4 linked regions of the Homo sapiens genome follow. The protein of the gene in region 1 purifies or fractionates together with the protein of each later gene. This does not show direct contact. Each region holds a gene or a part of one and is shown in the gene's direction. Other genes may lie near its edges. The genes, in order: BBOX1, ITPR1, EVPL and ITPRID2.

Region 1 (3,811 bases):
CTCCTAATGGTATCCCTCCCCTAGCCCCCTACCCCGCCACAGGCCCTGGTATGTGATGTTCCCCTCCCTGTGTCCATGTGTTCTCATTGTTCAAGTCCCACTTATGAGTGAGAACATGCAGTATTTGGTCTTCTGTTCTTGTGATAGTTTGCTGAGAATGATGGCTTCCAGCTTCCTCCATGTCCCTGCGGAGGACATGAACTCATCCTTTTTTATGGCTGCATAGTATTCCATGGTGTATATATGCCACATTTTCTTTATCCAGTCTATCATTGATGAGCATTTGAGTTGGTTCCAAGTCTTTGCCATTGTGAACAGTGCTGTAATAAACATACATGTGCACGTGTCTTTATAGTAGAATGATTTATAATCCTTTGGGTGTATACGCAGTAATGGGATTGCTGGGTCAAATGGTATTCCTGGTTCTAGATCCTTGAGGAATTGCCACACTGTCTTCCACAATGTTTGAACTACTTTATATTCCCACCAACAGTGTAAAAGTGTTCCTATTTCTCCACATCCTCTCTAGCATCTGTTGTTTCCTGACTTTTTAATGATCACCATTCTAACTGACATGAGATGGTATCTCATTGTGGTTTTGATTTGCATTTGTCTAATGACTAGTGACGATGAGCTTTTCTTCATATGTTTGTTGGCTGCATAAATGTCTTCTTTTGAGAAGTGTCTGTTCATATCTTTTGCCCATTTTTGATGGGTTTTTTTTTCTTGTAAATTTGTTGAAGTTCTTTGTAGATTCTGGATATTAGACCTTTGTCAGATGGATAGATTGCAAAAATTTTCTCCCATTCGGTAGGTTGTCTATTCACTCTGATGATAGTTCTGCTGTGCAGAAGCTCTTTAGTTTAATTAGATCCAGTTTGTCAATTTGGGCTTTTGTTGCCCTTGCTTTTGGTGTTTTAGTCATGAAGTCTTTGCCCATGCTTATGTCCTGAATGATATTGCCTAGGTTTTCTTCTAGGGTTTTTATGGTTTTAGGTCTTGCGTTTAAGTCTTTAATCCATCTTTAGTTAATTTTTGGATAAGGTGTAAGGAATGGATCCAGTTTCAGCTTTCTACATATGGCTAGCCAGTTTTCCCAACACCATTTATTAAATAGGAAATCCTTTCCCCATTGCTTGTTTTTGTCAGGTTTGTCAAAGATCAGATGGTTATAGATGTATGGCATTATTTCTGAGGCCTCTGTTTTGTTCCATTGGTCTATCTGTTTTTGCACCAGTACCATGCTGTTTTGGTTACTGTGGCCTTGTAGTATAGTCTGAAGTCAGGTAGCATGATGCCTCCAGCTTTGTCTTTTTGCTTAGGATTGTCTTGGCTATGTGGGCTCTTTTTTGGTTCCACATGAACTTTAAAGTAGTTTTTTCCAATTCTGTGAAGAAAGTCAATTATAGCTTGATGGGGATAGCATTGAATCTATAAATTACCTTGGGCAGTATGGCCATTTTCACGATATTGATTCTTCCTATCTATAAGCATGGAATGTTTTTCCATTGTTTGTGTCCTCTCTTATTTCCTTGAGCAATGGTTTGTAGTTCTCCTTGAAAAGGTCCTTCACATCCCTTCTAACTTGGATTCCTAGATATTTTATTCTCTTTGAAGCAATTGTGAATGGGAGTTCACTCATGATTTGGCTCTCTGTTTGTCTGTTATTGGTGTATAGGAATGCTTGTGATTTTTGCACATTGATTTTGTATCCCGAGACTTTGCTGAAGTTGCTTATCAGCTTAAGGAGATTTTGGGCTGAGAAGATGGGGTTTTCTAAATGTACAATTCATGTCATCTGCAAACAAAGACAATTTGACTTCTTCTTTTCCTAATTGAATACGCTTTATTTCTTTCTCTTGACTGATCACCCTGGCCAGAACTTCCAATACTATGTTGAATAGTAGTTGTGTCAGAGGGCATCCTTGTCTTGTGCCAGTTTTCAAAGAGAATGTTTCCAGTTTTTGCCCATTCAGTATGATATTGGCTGTGGGTTTGTCATAAGTAACTCTTATTATTTTGATATATATTCCTTCAATACCTAGTTTATTGAGAGTTTTTAGCATGAAGGGCTGTTGAATTTTATCGAAGCATCATACTTCTCCTGAGAAAGAGATGAAAATTAACAGATACTGACGTTTGCTAACATAGGTCTATGCTGGTCTTGTTTTCCATTTACTAAAAACACTCAAGAAATAACAGCCTTTTATTCTGAGGGATAAGTAATTTAGTAGATAAATCAGCCTTCTCAGGTACATATTAATCTACTACAATTTTAATTTTATGTATAATAACTATAAAGTTTCTGCATCTGCTTCCTGTGAATTCCCTCCAAAGCCTATGATTGAAATTAGTTGTAAGTAATGTTTGAAGAACTTTTGCAATTTCTTTTATGAGAACTTGAAGAGTATCACTTAATACATATAAACTTAGCTGGCAAATCCAGGTTTGGGGCAACCTTTCTCACTAATGAGCAGTGTGAGCCTGGACAAATCACACCCAACATTTCTGAGCTTCCATTTTCCCTGCATGTCTGATGAGGGCCCTGTGACCCAACAATAGCACAGGCTGTTTCTTTCTGGCTCTAAAAGCTCTAGCTCTAAGTTACTTTTATTTCCAAGATCAATGCATAAAATAAATTTCAGAGCTACTTTCTTGATTTTCCAAACAGTGCTGAAGAATCAGGAGACAAACTTGAATTTGTAATATTAAGAAAAAGAAAAAAAAGGAGAAAACCCACACCCATCACTGAAGTAATTTCAAAAACAAGCAATTTACTTGTGCCCAACAGAAGTCCCAGACAAACTTCTATTACTCTGAAGAGAAAAAATATGGTAGGTGAATAAATTAGGAGGGAAACACACCACAGACACACACACACACACACACACTACACACATGTATTAATATGAAGTAAAAGAAACCTATCCCATCAGATAAGAATATGCCAAAAATCCAAAGGCTGTTTTTCAGAACAGGTGAAACTACTGTTTCCCACCAAAACCAATCTGATATTTCATAAACTAAATTACAATTGTAAGAAGAAAAATAAGTGTAAAATAAGAATTTTTGTTTTATAGGTGTTCTTTAATTTGTCAAAGACATCCCACTGATAAAAATTCATCCTATATAGCTAGGAGCTATATATAGGAGCTATATCTAAATTTTTCTTTTCTTCAGAGAAACAGAGTAGCTTATCATCTAACTAAATTGCTATGGTGCTTCAACTGAGCTCAATTCTAACAAGTCAAGTTGGTTAAATTACAAAAACAGATTTCAACAAATCATGTTAACATACAAGCTATAATTTTCAGAAAGCATTTGCTTTTAAACACTGATGATCTGCAATTTTTTTTTTAATTTTCATCACATTTGCCCCAGTAGACCTTTAAATAATCCAGAAAAAGTTAAAGTGGGAACTTATTTTCCCATTTTGCCCTGCTTTTGTTTTGATTACCTTTCACGTTTATCATAAATTTAAGAAAGGGATTGTGAAGAGAAGGAATGACCCACTAAGTTTCTACAGAGATACCTAAGTAATTTAACATCAGCAACACCCAAGTCTTTCCAGTTCTTCCACATTCTCCCATGTGCCTTGGGCACCCTCCAATCAGACACTATCCTGACATCGCCTCTCTTGGAACACCTTCCTCAGGACATCCATTTGGCAAAATGGGTTGGAAAGAATGGTCTCAGGTTCCCCCAGTGATTGGAAATGTGCTTCTGCCTCTCTCATTCAAACCTAGGTAGAAGAAGAAAAAGAAAAAAACAGATAGAAAGCTCAAAACAGCAGTCTGAAATGTAATTAATG
Region 2 (3,811 bases), on another chromosome or scaffold:
ACGTTTTTGTTCTCCATTTTTTCTTTCAAGTTCATGTGTGTGTGTGTGTGTGTGTATGCATATGTACACTGAAAGTACAATCTGCTCTTTGAATAATTCAAATCAGAACAGAAAATCCTTTCAAGATATCATTCTTATCAGGCAGGGAAAGTTCTTCATGTTCTAAGTGAATTACTCTGGCTCTTGCCTTGAGACCCATGAAAGTCATTTGGGGTTGACAATGGTATCTATTTAAACCAAGTGATTGTCTTTTGGAGGGAATTGGCATCTTTTCTTTAGGAATGAGAAGTGGAATGGTTGCTTAGAAAAAAAGAGATAGATGAACTCCACAGAAAGATCAAGAGTCTTTTCTTCAAAATATTTTTAAGTGAGGAAGATCAGGGTGTTGGTATTGCGGGGAGGGAGGAGAGTGGGCAGAGAGAAAGATAAAAAAGAAACCTTTAATCCAATGGTGTGCAACCAACTGACTTCCAGAGGGGGGAATATCACATGGCTTTTCAACTCATTTATAAAGATATCATGGAAACTGTCTGATTTCTTCATGAGCAGCTCTTAGAAAACAAACAAAAATAAAACAAACACCAAATATGAACAACAGAAAAAAACAGCCAAAATAAAAGTAGGCCTGGAGTTAGGTTTCTAGGTCAAGCTGTCTTTGGCTACATCTAATTAAGGAGTCTCCACAGGGCCAGTGTCTATCTTGTTTACTATTGGTTTGATTTTTAAAAATAAAACACATTGCATTTGCAGGCTGTCTGTTAACCAGAAGTCCATGCAGTTTTTTTTTTTTCCATTTTTGCTGTTTTAAGTTTGTGCATAGCTCAATTGATGAATGCAATTAAGGCTTGAAGTCGGTGATGTGAATGACATAACTTCTATGATTCCTTACAATTCTCTTGGTTTCTGTGGTTCTGAGATGATTGCTAATGAGAATAAGCCAGATACACCACTGAAACCGTCACCCATTCAACTTTGAGATTTCTAAATTGGATGTAGTTTAAGGCACATGGTGTGGTAAATCTATTTAACAGACTCTAAGACCTGTTCAAGTTGTGTGCGATTCAAATGTTTTATTCTTTATTCAACAAATTTCTTGAGCACCTGCTATGTACTAAGATGTATTCCAGGTGCTCAGGATATAGCAATGAACAAACCATCCCGTTCCCAAGAGGCTTACATCTCAGTTGGTGGGAGGCAGCCAATATAAATAAACAAGTAAGTATTATAGTATTAGAGGTAGTAAAAGCTATGGAGAAAAAGAAAACTGGTTAAAGGGGGAACAGAAAATAACAAGTGGAGAAATTAGATCCCTTGTGCATTGCCGGTGGGAATGTAAAATGGTGAAGCTGCTGTGGAAAACAGCATGGCAGTTACTAAAAAAAATTAAACATAAAATTACTATATGTCCCAGCAATTCCACTTCAAGGTATATACTTTAAAAAATTGAAAGTAGGGACGTGAGCAGATATTTGTACACCTGTGTCAGTAGAAGCATTATCACAGTAGCCAAAAGGTAGAAACAACACAAGTCTACTGATGAATGAACAGATAAAATGTGAAATATACATACAATGGAATATTATTCAGCCTTAAAAAGGGAATTCTGACACATGCTACAATGTGGATGAACCTTGAAAACATGCTAAGTGAAACAAGCCAGAAATAAAAGGACACATATTTTATGATTTTTCTTATAGAGGCATCTAGAGTAGTCAGATCCCTGCAGACAGAAAGTAGAATGGGGATTGCTGGGGGAGATAGAAGACAGGAAGGGGGAGTTAGTGTTTATTGAGGATAGAGTTTCAGTTTGGAAAGATGAAAAAGTTCTGGAAATGGATGGTGGTGATGTCACACAACAGTGTGAATGTACTTAGTGCCACTGAGTTATAACATTTCAAAGTGGTATATTTTATGTTATGTATATTTTACAGTAATTTTAAAAAGCAACAAAACATGATGAGGGGTATTAAGGGAGTACTCAGGTGGGGATTAGATCTTTACTACATGACATCTCAGCACAGATCTGAAGGAGGCAAACGAGTTGACCCTGTAGCTGTCAGGGAAAAAGTGTGTTCCAAATGTCAGAGCAGCAAGTACAGAGGCCCTGAGATAGGAGTGTTTGTGACATGTTGGAGGAAGGAGAAGAAGGCCAGGGGAGAGTGCTAGGAGTTCAGGAGGGAGAGGGAGTCAAGGTCCAGACCTGTAGGGACCAGATTTTGCAGGTCAACAGTGGTTTATCTGAGGACTTGTAAACTCTCACGGAATTCTCAGTGTGGTTTTCAACATCACAAAACTACATTGTCCTTTCTGAAGAGACTCTGGTAAGGTTGGCAGGATCACATACCAGATGGGAACTCGATAGGGGGTAAAACCCAGATTTCTGGACTGTCTGGTTAATGACAGGACTTACCTGGAGTTGTAATTCACTTCAGTAGAAAAGGAAAGTTTGACAAATAGGTGAACGTACAGTTGACTTGGAGAGCAAATTGTAAGAACATAATGATAATCCTGGAGTTTCAACACAAACCTATGTCTTACCGCCACCCTGCGTTGTATCCAGTGTCGTTTTAAGAGATATTTACAAGGAGGACTAATATTCTGCTCTCCAGCATCCTTGAGGAATTAGAAGCTTCACATCAGTGATTCTCCTTAATAAGTGAAGTGGACCCCTGCACATGTGCAAACTTAAAGCAAACCTCAAATTTTGTTACTTATTACATAAGATATACATATTCATGTAGCACACACCTTGGACTCGGCTACTCAGGGGACGGAGGCAGGAGAATTACTTGAGCCCGGGGGTTTGAGGCTGTAATATACTATGATTGCATCTGTGATAGCTACTGTACTCCAGCAAGACCCCATCTCTGTTAAAAAAATTTTTTTAAGGAGAAAAAGATAGCATATTCATTGTAGTGCAACATTAGGAAATAAAGAGGAGCAATGAAACAAAACAAAACAATTCAACTATTAGAGATTAGGGTTTCAGGCTTTTCCTCTAAGTATGCATATGTAAAATTTACGTATATATTTAAATTTCATAAAAAGGGACTAACACAGTATCTCTCATTTGGTAAATTACCTTTTGTACATCTTGAACATCTTTTTAATAAACAGACATCTGTGTCTCATTTTTCTAAATGTGCCTACCCCTTTGATGGCCTTTCATTTTTATTGAGTCTAGGTTTATACTTCCCTGATATATATACATATATAAATAGATATTTGTAAAAAATACATAATATAATAATTTTACACATACACGTATTTAACAGTTTGAATTAGGATCCAAATAAGGTAAATACATTACAAATGGTTGATGTTCACTAATCTCTGTATTTCCTCTACAGATCTTTTTTCCATGCATTTTTTTTGTTGTTATCGAAGAAACTGGGTGATACACGTCTCCACAGTTTAGACTTTGCTGACTGCATCAGTGCAATGTGGTTTAACATGTTTCTGTATCCCCTTGGGGTACCATAATTTGGTAGTTAGATGTAGAGGCTTCATCAAAGTTAGGTTCTTTTCTTTTTTAAATTGAGAAGGGGTCTCACTATGTTGCCTCGGCTGGCCTTGGACTCCTGGTCTCAAGCAGTCTTCCTGTGCCAGCCTTCCCAGTAGCTGGGACTCCAGTAAGTCTGCTCTGTAAACTTTGCTTAGGTGGGTGTGAGATGTTGGATGTCTACTCTTGTTATATGAGCACCCCTTGATGCTCACTACCTGAATCCATTAGTTCTCTCGTCAGTGAGAAATGGGCTGGTAAAGTTCCTGAGATTTCGACACAGCCCTTGTTGTCTTTGCTAGCTTTTTT
Region 3 (4,273 bases), on another chromosome or scaffold:
GCATGAGCTGGAGGCGCAGAGGAGCCAACTGCTGCAGCTGAGGACCCAGCGGCCCTTGGAGAGGCTGGAGGAGAAGGAAGTGGTAGAGTTCTACCGGGACCCCCAGCTGGAGGGCAGCCTGTCCAGGGTGAAGGCCCAGGTGGAGGAGGAGGGCAAGCGGCGGGCTGGCCTGCAGGCAGACCTGGAAGTGGCAGCCCAGAAGGTCGTGCAGCTGGAAAGCAAGAGGAAGACCATGCAGCCTCATCTGCTGACCAAGGAGGTCACCCAGGTGGAGAGGGACCCCGGCCTGGACAGCCAGGCGGCCCAGCTCAGGATCCAGATCCAGCAGCTCCGCGGGGAGGATGCCGTCATCTCGGCCCGGCTGGAAGGGCTGAAGAAGGAGCTACTGGCCCTTGAGAAGAGGGAGGTGGACGTGAAGGAGAAGGTCGTGGTGAAAGAGGTAGTCAAGGTGGAGAAGAATCTGGAAATGGTCAAGGCAGCCCAGGCTCTGAGGCTGCAGATGGAGGAGGATGCTGCGCGGAGGAAGCAGGCGGAGGAGGCTGTGGCCAAGCTACAGGCTCGCATCGAAGACCTGGAGCGGGCTATCAGCTCGGTGGAGCCCAAGGTCATCGTGAAGGAGGTGAAGAAGGTGGAGCAGGACCCAGGGCTCCTCCAGGAGTCCTCCAGGCTGAGGAGCCTCCTCGAGGAGGAGAGGACCAAGAACGCGACGCTGGCCAGGGAGCTGAGCGACCTGCACAGCAAGTACAGCGTGGTGGAGAAGCAGAGGCCCAAAGTGCAGCTCCAGGAGCGCGTCCACGAGATCTTCCAGGTGGATCCGGAGACAGAGCAGGAGATCACTCGGCTCAAGGCCAAGCTGCAGGAGATGGCGGGCAAGAGGAGCGGTGTGGAGAAGGAGGTGGAGAAGCTGCTGCCCGACCTGGAGGTCCTGCGGGCCCAGAAGCCCACGGTGGAGTACAAGGAGGTGACCCAGGAGGTGGTGAGGCATGAGAGGAGCCCCGAGGTGCTGCGTGAGATCGACCGCCTGAAGGCTCAGCTCAACGAGCTCGTCAACAGCCACGGGCGCTCCCAGGAGCAGCTCATCCGCCTGCAGGGTGAGCGCGACGAGTGGAGGCGCGAGCGGGCCAAGGTGGAGACCAAGACGGTGAGCAAGGAGGTGGTGCGCCACGAGAAGGACCCGGTGCTGGAGAAAGAAGCAGAGCGGCTCCGCCAGGAGGTGCGGGAGGCGGCCCAGAAGAGGCGGGCCGCGGAGGACGCGGTGTACGAGCTGCAGAGCAAGCGCCTGCTGCTGGAGAGGAGGAAGCCCGAGGAGAAGGTGGTGGTGCAGGAGGTGGTGGTCACCCAGAAGGACCCGAAGCTGCGCGAGGAGCACAGCCGGCTGAGCGGGAGCCTGGATGAGGAGGTGGGCCGGCGGCGCCAGCTAGAGCTTGAGGTGCAGCAGCTGCGGGCCGGCGTGGAGGAGCAGGAGGGCCTGCTCAGCTTCCAGGAGGACCGCAGCAAGAAGCTGGCCGTGGAGAGGGAGCTGCGGCAGCTGACCTTGAGGATCCAGGAGCTCGAGAAGCGGCCTCCCACGGTGCAGGAGAAGATCATCATGGAGGAAGTGGTCAAGCTGGAGAAGGACCCGGACCTGGAGAAGTCCACGGAAGCCCTGCGGTGGGACCTGGACCAGGAGAAGACCCAGGTAACCGAGCTGAATCGGGAGTGCAAGAACCTGCAGGTCCAGATTGACGTCCTCCAGAAAGCCAAATCGCAGGAGAAGACCATCTACAAGGAAGTGATCCGGGTGCAGAAGGACCGCGTCCTGGAAGATGAGCGGGCCCGCGTGTGGGAGATGCTCAACAGGGAGCGCACGGCCCGGCAGGCCCGGGAGGAGGAGGCACGGCGCCTGCGGGAGCGCATTGACCGGGCCGAGACGCTGGGGAGAACCTGGTCCCGGGAGGAGTCCGAGCTGCAGAGGGCCCGGGACCAGGCCGACCAGGAGTGTGGGCGGCTGCAGCAGGAGCTGCGGGCTCTGGAGAGGCAGAAGCAGCAGCAGACACTGCAGCTGCAGGAGGAGTCGAAGCTGCTCAGCCAGAAGACGGAGAGCGAGCGACAGAAGGCGGCCCAGCGGGGCCAGGAGCTCTCGCGGCTGGAGGCGGCCATCCTCCGCGAGAAGGACCAGATCTACGAGAAGGAGCGGACGCTCCGGGACCTCCACGCCAAGGTGAGCCGGGAGGAGCTCAGCCAGGAGACCCAGACGCGAGAGACCAACCTTTCCACCAAGATCTCCATCCTGGAACCCGAGACGGGGAAGGACATGTCCCCATACGAGGCCTACAAGAGGGGCATCATCGACAGGGGCCAGTACTTGCAGCTGCAGGAGCTCGAGTGTGACTGGGAGGAGGTCACCACCTCGGGGCCCTGTGGGGAGGAGTCTGTGCTCCTGGACCGCAAGAGCGGGAAGCAGTACTCCATCGAGGCCGCCCTCCGCTGCCGGCGCATCTCTAAGGAGGAGTACCATCTGTACAAGGACGGCCACCTGCCCATCTCCGAGTTTGCGCTGCTTGTAGCTGGGGAGACCAAGCCAAGCTCCTCACTCTCCATCGGCTCTATCATCTCCAAGTCCCCGCTCGCCTCCCCGGCCCCCCAGAGCACCAGTTTCTTCTCTCCCAGCTTCTCTCTCGGGCTCGGTGATGACAGCTTCCCTATCGCCGGGATCTATGACACAACCACAGACAACAAGTGCAGCATCAAGACGGCCGTGGCCAAGAACATGCTGGACCCCATCACTGGGCAGAAGCTACTGGAGGCCCAGGCGGCCACAGGGGGCATCGTGGACCTGCTCAGCCGTGAGCGCTACTCTGTGCACAAGGCGATGGAGAGGGGCCTGATCGAGAACACCTCCACACAGAGGCTGCTTAACGCCCAGAAGGCCTTCACCGGCATCGAGGACCCCGTCACCAAGAAGAGGCTCTCGGTGGGCGAGGCCGTCCAGAAGGGCTGGATGCCCCGGGAGAGCGTGCTCCCACACCTGCAGGTGCAGCACCTGACCGGGGGGCTCATCGACCCCAAGAGGACAGGCCGCATCCCCATCCAGCAGGCCCTCCTCTCCGGGATGATCAGTGAAGAGCTGGCCCAGCTCCTGCAGGACGAGTCCAGCTACGAGAAGGATTTGACAGACCCCATCTCCAAGGAACGGCTGAGCTACAAGGAGGCCATGGGCCGCTGCCGCAAAGACCCCCTGAGCGGCCTGCTGCTCCTGCCAGCGGCACTGGAGGGGTACCGCTGCTACCGCTCCGCCTCCCCCACCGTCCCGCGCTCCCTTCGCTGACACGGGCCAAGGAGCCAGTGGGGAAGTGCGTGTGTTGGGCCAGGTAGGATACGTACACCTCTTGCCTCAGAGCAGCCTCATCCCAGGCAGTGGGTCTTCCCTCTGTCCAACCACTGTTTTATTATTTTACTAACATGGTGATGGGCTCCCTCCCCTAACCTTGGTGCCTGATCCATCCCCAGACCAGGACAGCAGCCACTCAGTTCTTCCTCCACCTCCACCCAGTGATCCCAATAAACGAATTCTGTCTCCCCGTGCCATGTGGTGTCCCATTCATTCACATTTGAGAGTGCAGGACCCATGTGTCTGGGGGATGAGTGCAAGGACAGCGTTGCTCAAGTCCTTGCCTGGGCGGACGTGCTCAATTTGCCTGCCTGGGAAACAGGCATCCTCGGAGGGCTGTGCCTCCTTGAGTGCGGGGCAGGGATGCAGTGGCAGGTCATGGAAAGAGATTATGGTTTAAAATCACTAAAGGAGGCCGGGCACAGTGGCTCACACCTGTAATACCAGCATTTAGGGGGGCCAAGGCGGGTGGATCCGAGGTCAGGAGTTCGAGACCAGCCTGACGAACACGGTGAAACCCCGACTCTACTAAAAATACAAAAATTAGCTGGGTGTGGTGGTGCACACCTAAAATTCCCGCTACTCAGGAGGCTGAGGCAGGAGAATCACTTGAACCTGGGAGGCGGACGTTCCAGTGAGCAGAGATCATGCCACTGCACTCTACCCTGGGCAACAGGGTAGACCTGAGACAGCGAGACTCCATCTCAAAAAAAAAAAAAAAAATGGGGGCTTGGTGGCATATGCCTGTAATCCCAGCTACTCGGGAGACTGAGGCAGGAGAACTGCTTGAACCCATGAGGCAGAGGTTGCAGTGAGCTGAGATTATGTCACTGCACTCTAGCCTGGGTGACAGAGTGAGACTCTGTCTCAAAAAAAAAAAAAAAAAAAAAAAAAAATCATGGA
Region 4 (3,811 bases), on another chromosome or scaffold:
ACTGCAACGTCTGCCTCCTGGGTTCATGTAATTCTCCTGCCTCAGCTTCCTGAGTAGCTGGGATTACAGGCACATACCACCACAGCCAGCTAATTTTTTGTATTTTTAGTAGAGATGGGGTTTCACTACGTTGGCCAGGCTGGTCTCAAACTCCTGACCTCGTGATCTGACCACCTCGGCCTCCCAAAATGCTGGGATTACAGGTGTGAGCCACCACACCCAGCCTATAACTATTTATAAAAAGTTATTAAATCCTGTTCTTGAATTTCTAATTATTCCAAATGACTTGCTTCATTAATTCTTGTGTTCTTCTTGAATGGCTTATTTTGAATACGTCATGGTAACTCTCTGAAGCCATAGATTAGTAGTGTGAATGATTCACAAGTTAAACCAAAATGATCCTTCTCAAGCAGATGTTCATCTTTTAGATGTAAAGGAAAAACTTAAGAAGGAGAACTTTTATCTCAGCATTTCTGTAAGAAGTTGACTGTGTGGTCTTCTTGACCTTTAAATGAATTTTTATTTAAATATAACCATTATTGGATATACACATAATCTTTTTTAAGCTACTGATGTGTTAGTAACTGTTTCTAATCCTGTCTTCATACTAATTATTGATTTAACTAATGTACTTGACTTCTCATTTTTAGCTGTTAAGTTTTAGGATTTTTCTATGTTTATTGGTCTGAGTTAAAATAATCCCACATCAGTCAGATATTTGACAGATAATTAAGTTGTTCCTTTGGCCTTTTAAATGTAACTGTGTATGTTTTGAAGATAAGCCTGCCCTGGAATATGAACTCTAACATATGACATGCACAGATATCTGCTACTCTAAAGCCCAATTAACCACTGTTTTGTTATTTGATATTTACCTAAAAGACCTTAGTCAATTTTTATTGAAAATTTACCTGACAGTAAAAATAAATGATATTTTTGTGTGTATGTGTAAAACTCGATAGTATTTGTTTAAGATAAACATTTGCAAGTAATTTATAGAATCATAAACTAGTACGGAAAGAGATACTTTATTCATTTTCTAGTTTCTTCCCTTTACAAATGAGGAAGCATCCCCTCCCTCATTTGATATTGTTTTATAGCAGTGGTTCTTCACCATCTTTCTGAGGGCTATAATATTCCTTTTGATATCAGTGCTTCACAGGGGGAAGGAGCACAGCGGGTGTCAGTGGAGGATGGCAGAGGAGGATCTCCTGTTGTACATTCTTACTACTTTACTGTTTGAAAGTACTTTGACTTACAGTTACATTTGATCACCCCAAGGACCTATGAGGTAGAAATTTTAATTTTAATTTTGCTGTTAATTTTAATTTTGAGGCTGAGCATGGTGATTCACACCTGTAATCCCAGCACTGTGTGGAGGCTGAGGCAGGAGGATCACTTGAGCCCAGAAGTTAGAGACCAGCCTGGACAACATAGCATGACTTGTCTCTACAAATAGTTTTAAAATTAGCCGTGCATGGTGGTGCATGTCTGTAGTCCCACTTCTCCAAAGGCTGAGGTGGGAGAATCACTTGAGCCCAGGCAGTTGAGGCTGCAGTGAGCCATGATTCCACCACTGCACTCCAGCCTGGGCAACAGAACGAGACCTTGTTTCAAAAAAATGAAATAAAAAAAAAAAATACGGATATTTATCGCAGATAATTGTCAGAGGCCGTTAGCCAGTAAGTGGCATGAATAAGACTTGAATTCACGTTACTTGTGACTATACTATACAACTTGGTGAAGGTCAGATATGTTGGTATGGTCAGGCATTGTACAAGAACTAATCATCTGATGCACAGCACCATGCTACTACTTTGGAAAAAGAATGATTTCCTCTGACATTTTTTTGAGCTGTCATTAAAAATTAGACAGAATTGTAATTTCTAAAGCTCTAGTTTTGATTTTCTTTGAAAACCATTTTGATATACAATGTTTATTCAATGATGACAGCTATACAGTCTCTTTTTAAACTTTAGAGGAAGGGTTATTTGAGTTAGAACATCCATGTATTGCTGTCCTGTGCAATACAATACAGTAGTATTGTGCCTAGAAGATCCCTCTTAGTCAAGGTAAACATGACAGCTGTTAAGAAACCAAAGTGGTTCACTGAAACAAAAAGTACATTTTTTAAACAAGAGAAAGAAACCAAAGTGAGTGCCTGTCATTTTAGCAGAACATTGATTTAGAAAGATACAGTCATTGTTTCATGAAAACTTTTTTAAATGAAGTAACCCAAATGTGTGGGTTATTCTAAAGCTGTTTTTCATCTTTGAATCCCAAAACATTGAGACCATGCAATTTTATCACTTTGGTTTAGTGGTTTTTTTTTTTTTTTATATTATGAAACAGTTTTGTTATGAAAAGTTTCAAACTTACTTGAAGATTAGAGAAAATAATATCATGAACACCCATTACTCATCATTCTAATTCAGTTTTATTTGGCTATTCTTGTTAATTATGAAAGGCTGCTTATAGCAAATGACCAGAATTCTACGGAGCATTTGAAACCACTGAATAGGGAAAATCTTGTCACATAAATCTAAATTCTGTGTTCTATATTTGCTTCATAATTCTCTGTGGTGTACCCCATCTCAAATTTGACTGCCGCCTTTTGCACAATTGTGACCAATAATAAAATAAGAAATTCACCCATTATCACTAGCATGTATGTTTCTCTCTTCAGCAAGTGGGTACTCTGATTTTGCTGAGTAAACAAGAAGAATCCCAACTTTAGTTTTATTAGTAAAATGTGACTGTCTCAGCTTTTTGAAGTGCTCCTTTCTTGCACTTAATTATGGAGTTTGTAGTAAAAGGAGAGAGTAGATTTGTTTTTGCCATTGAGTAGCATCTTGAAGAATAGAATGCTGATGATATGTGTTTATTAAAGTCATGTTATTTTGTGATTAATTTCATAAGTCTAAGGAAATAGAATATGTGATAATTCTGTGTTTAAAGGTGAGCAGCCGGGTGCGGCGGCTCACACCTTTAATCCCAGCACTTGGAAGGCTGTGGCAGGTGGATCGCTTGAGCCCAGGAGTTTGAGACCCCAGCCTGGGCAACATGGTGAAACCCCATCTCTACCAAAAATACAAAAATTACCCAGTCTCATAACCCAGTCTCAAAATAAATAAATAGATTAAATTTAAAAAAAACATGACAGTGAGAGATTTGGTATATTAATGCTGTGCCTGAGCCAGTATTCCTAGAACATAAATGCAGAGGCATTGGAATTCTGCTATAATTTTTTGATCTGGTTGATATTTACTTTACAGAAAGATACTTGAAGTAGACCGAGCCTGAATAGAAGCTAATAATAGACATTTTATTGAATATAAAAAGAAAACGCACATTGTTCCCTTGCATACAAGACAATGGTTTTCCTGTTGAACATGTATCTGCTGCTTTGAAGAATTATTCTAATTTTAACAAGATAACAAAGAATAGTAGAATCTATTTTTATATATCTGATCTACAGGTGATGGTTTTGCATGAGTAGTGTGCTTTCAGTTTTCAAAAGATTCATAAACTTCGGTTCCTGGAGCTATGTAGAGCAAAGAAATCACAAATTAGAGCAAATTTTAAATTGGGTAATACTATCTTTAACCTTTGGGCTTTTAAAAATGTTGGTTATTTCACTCTTATTCCTTTGGAATATTTCTTATTCTTGAATAGCTTCATAACTAAAAACTACCAGAGTTTTCCCTAAAATGTGTTAACTATTAGCGCTTTGATTTTTTTTTTCAAGGTTGAAAACCCATATGTTCAGCTAGGTACCACACTTTACTAGGATGTTCTTTATGATTTAAGA

The links.
Region 2: the proteins of BBOX1 (region 1) and ITPR1 purify together in Homo sapiens (affinity purification with mass spectrometry; one large-scale study listed by BioGRID and IntAct). This does not show direct contact.
Region 3: the proteins of BBOX1 (region 1) and EVPL purify together in Homo sapiens (affinity purification with mass spectrometry; one large-scale study listed by BioGRID and IntAct). This does not show direct contact.
Region 4: the proteins of BBOX1 (region 1) and ITPRID2 purify together in Homo sapiens (affinity purification with mass spectrometry; 3 studies listed by BioGRID and IntAct, with this or other methods). This does not show direct contact.

Annotation. Positions count from the first base shown.
Region 1 is NC_000011.10:27,043,571-27,047,381, forward strand, and holds part of BBOX1 (gamma-butyrobetaine dioxygenase), read left to right. Parts: intron 1-2,671; exon of another isoform or gene 2,672-2,834; intron 2,835-3,615; exon of another isoform or gene 3,616-3,742; intron 3,743-3,811. UniProt on the Homo sapiens protein: Catalyzes the formation of L-carnitine from gamma-butyrobetaine.
Region 2 is NC_000003.12:4,496,282-4,500,092, forward strand, and holds part of ITPR1 (inositol 1,4,5-trisphosphate-gated calcium channel ITPR1), read left to right. Parts: intron 1-3,811. UniProt on the Homo sapiens protein: Inositol 1,4,5-trisphosphate-gated calcium channel that, upon inositol 1,4,5-trisphosphate binding, mediates calcium release from the endoplasmic reticulum (ER).
Region 3 is NC_000017.11:76,006,137-76,010,409, reverse strand, and holds the end of EVPL (envoplakin), read left to right. Parts: coding exon 1-3,307; 3' UTR 3,308-3,565; downstream 3,566-4,273. UniProt on the Homo sapiens protein: Component of the cornified envelope of keratinocytes. May link the cornified envelope to desmosomes and intermediate filaments.
Region 4 is NC_000002.12:181,905,124-181,908,934, forward strand, and holds part of ITPRID2 (protein ITPRID2), read left to right. Parts: intron 1-3,811.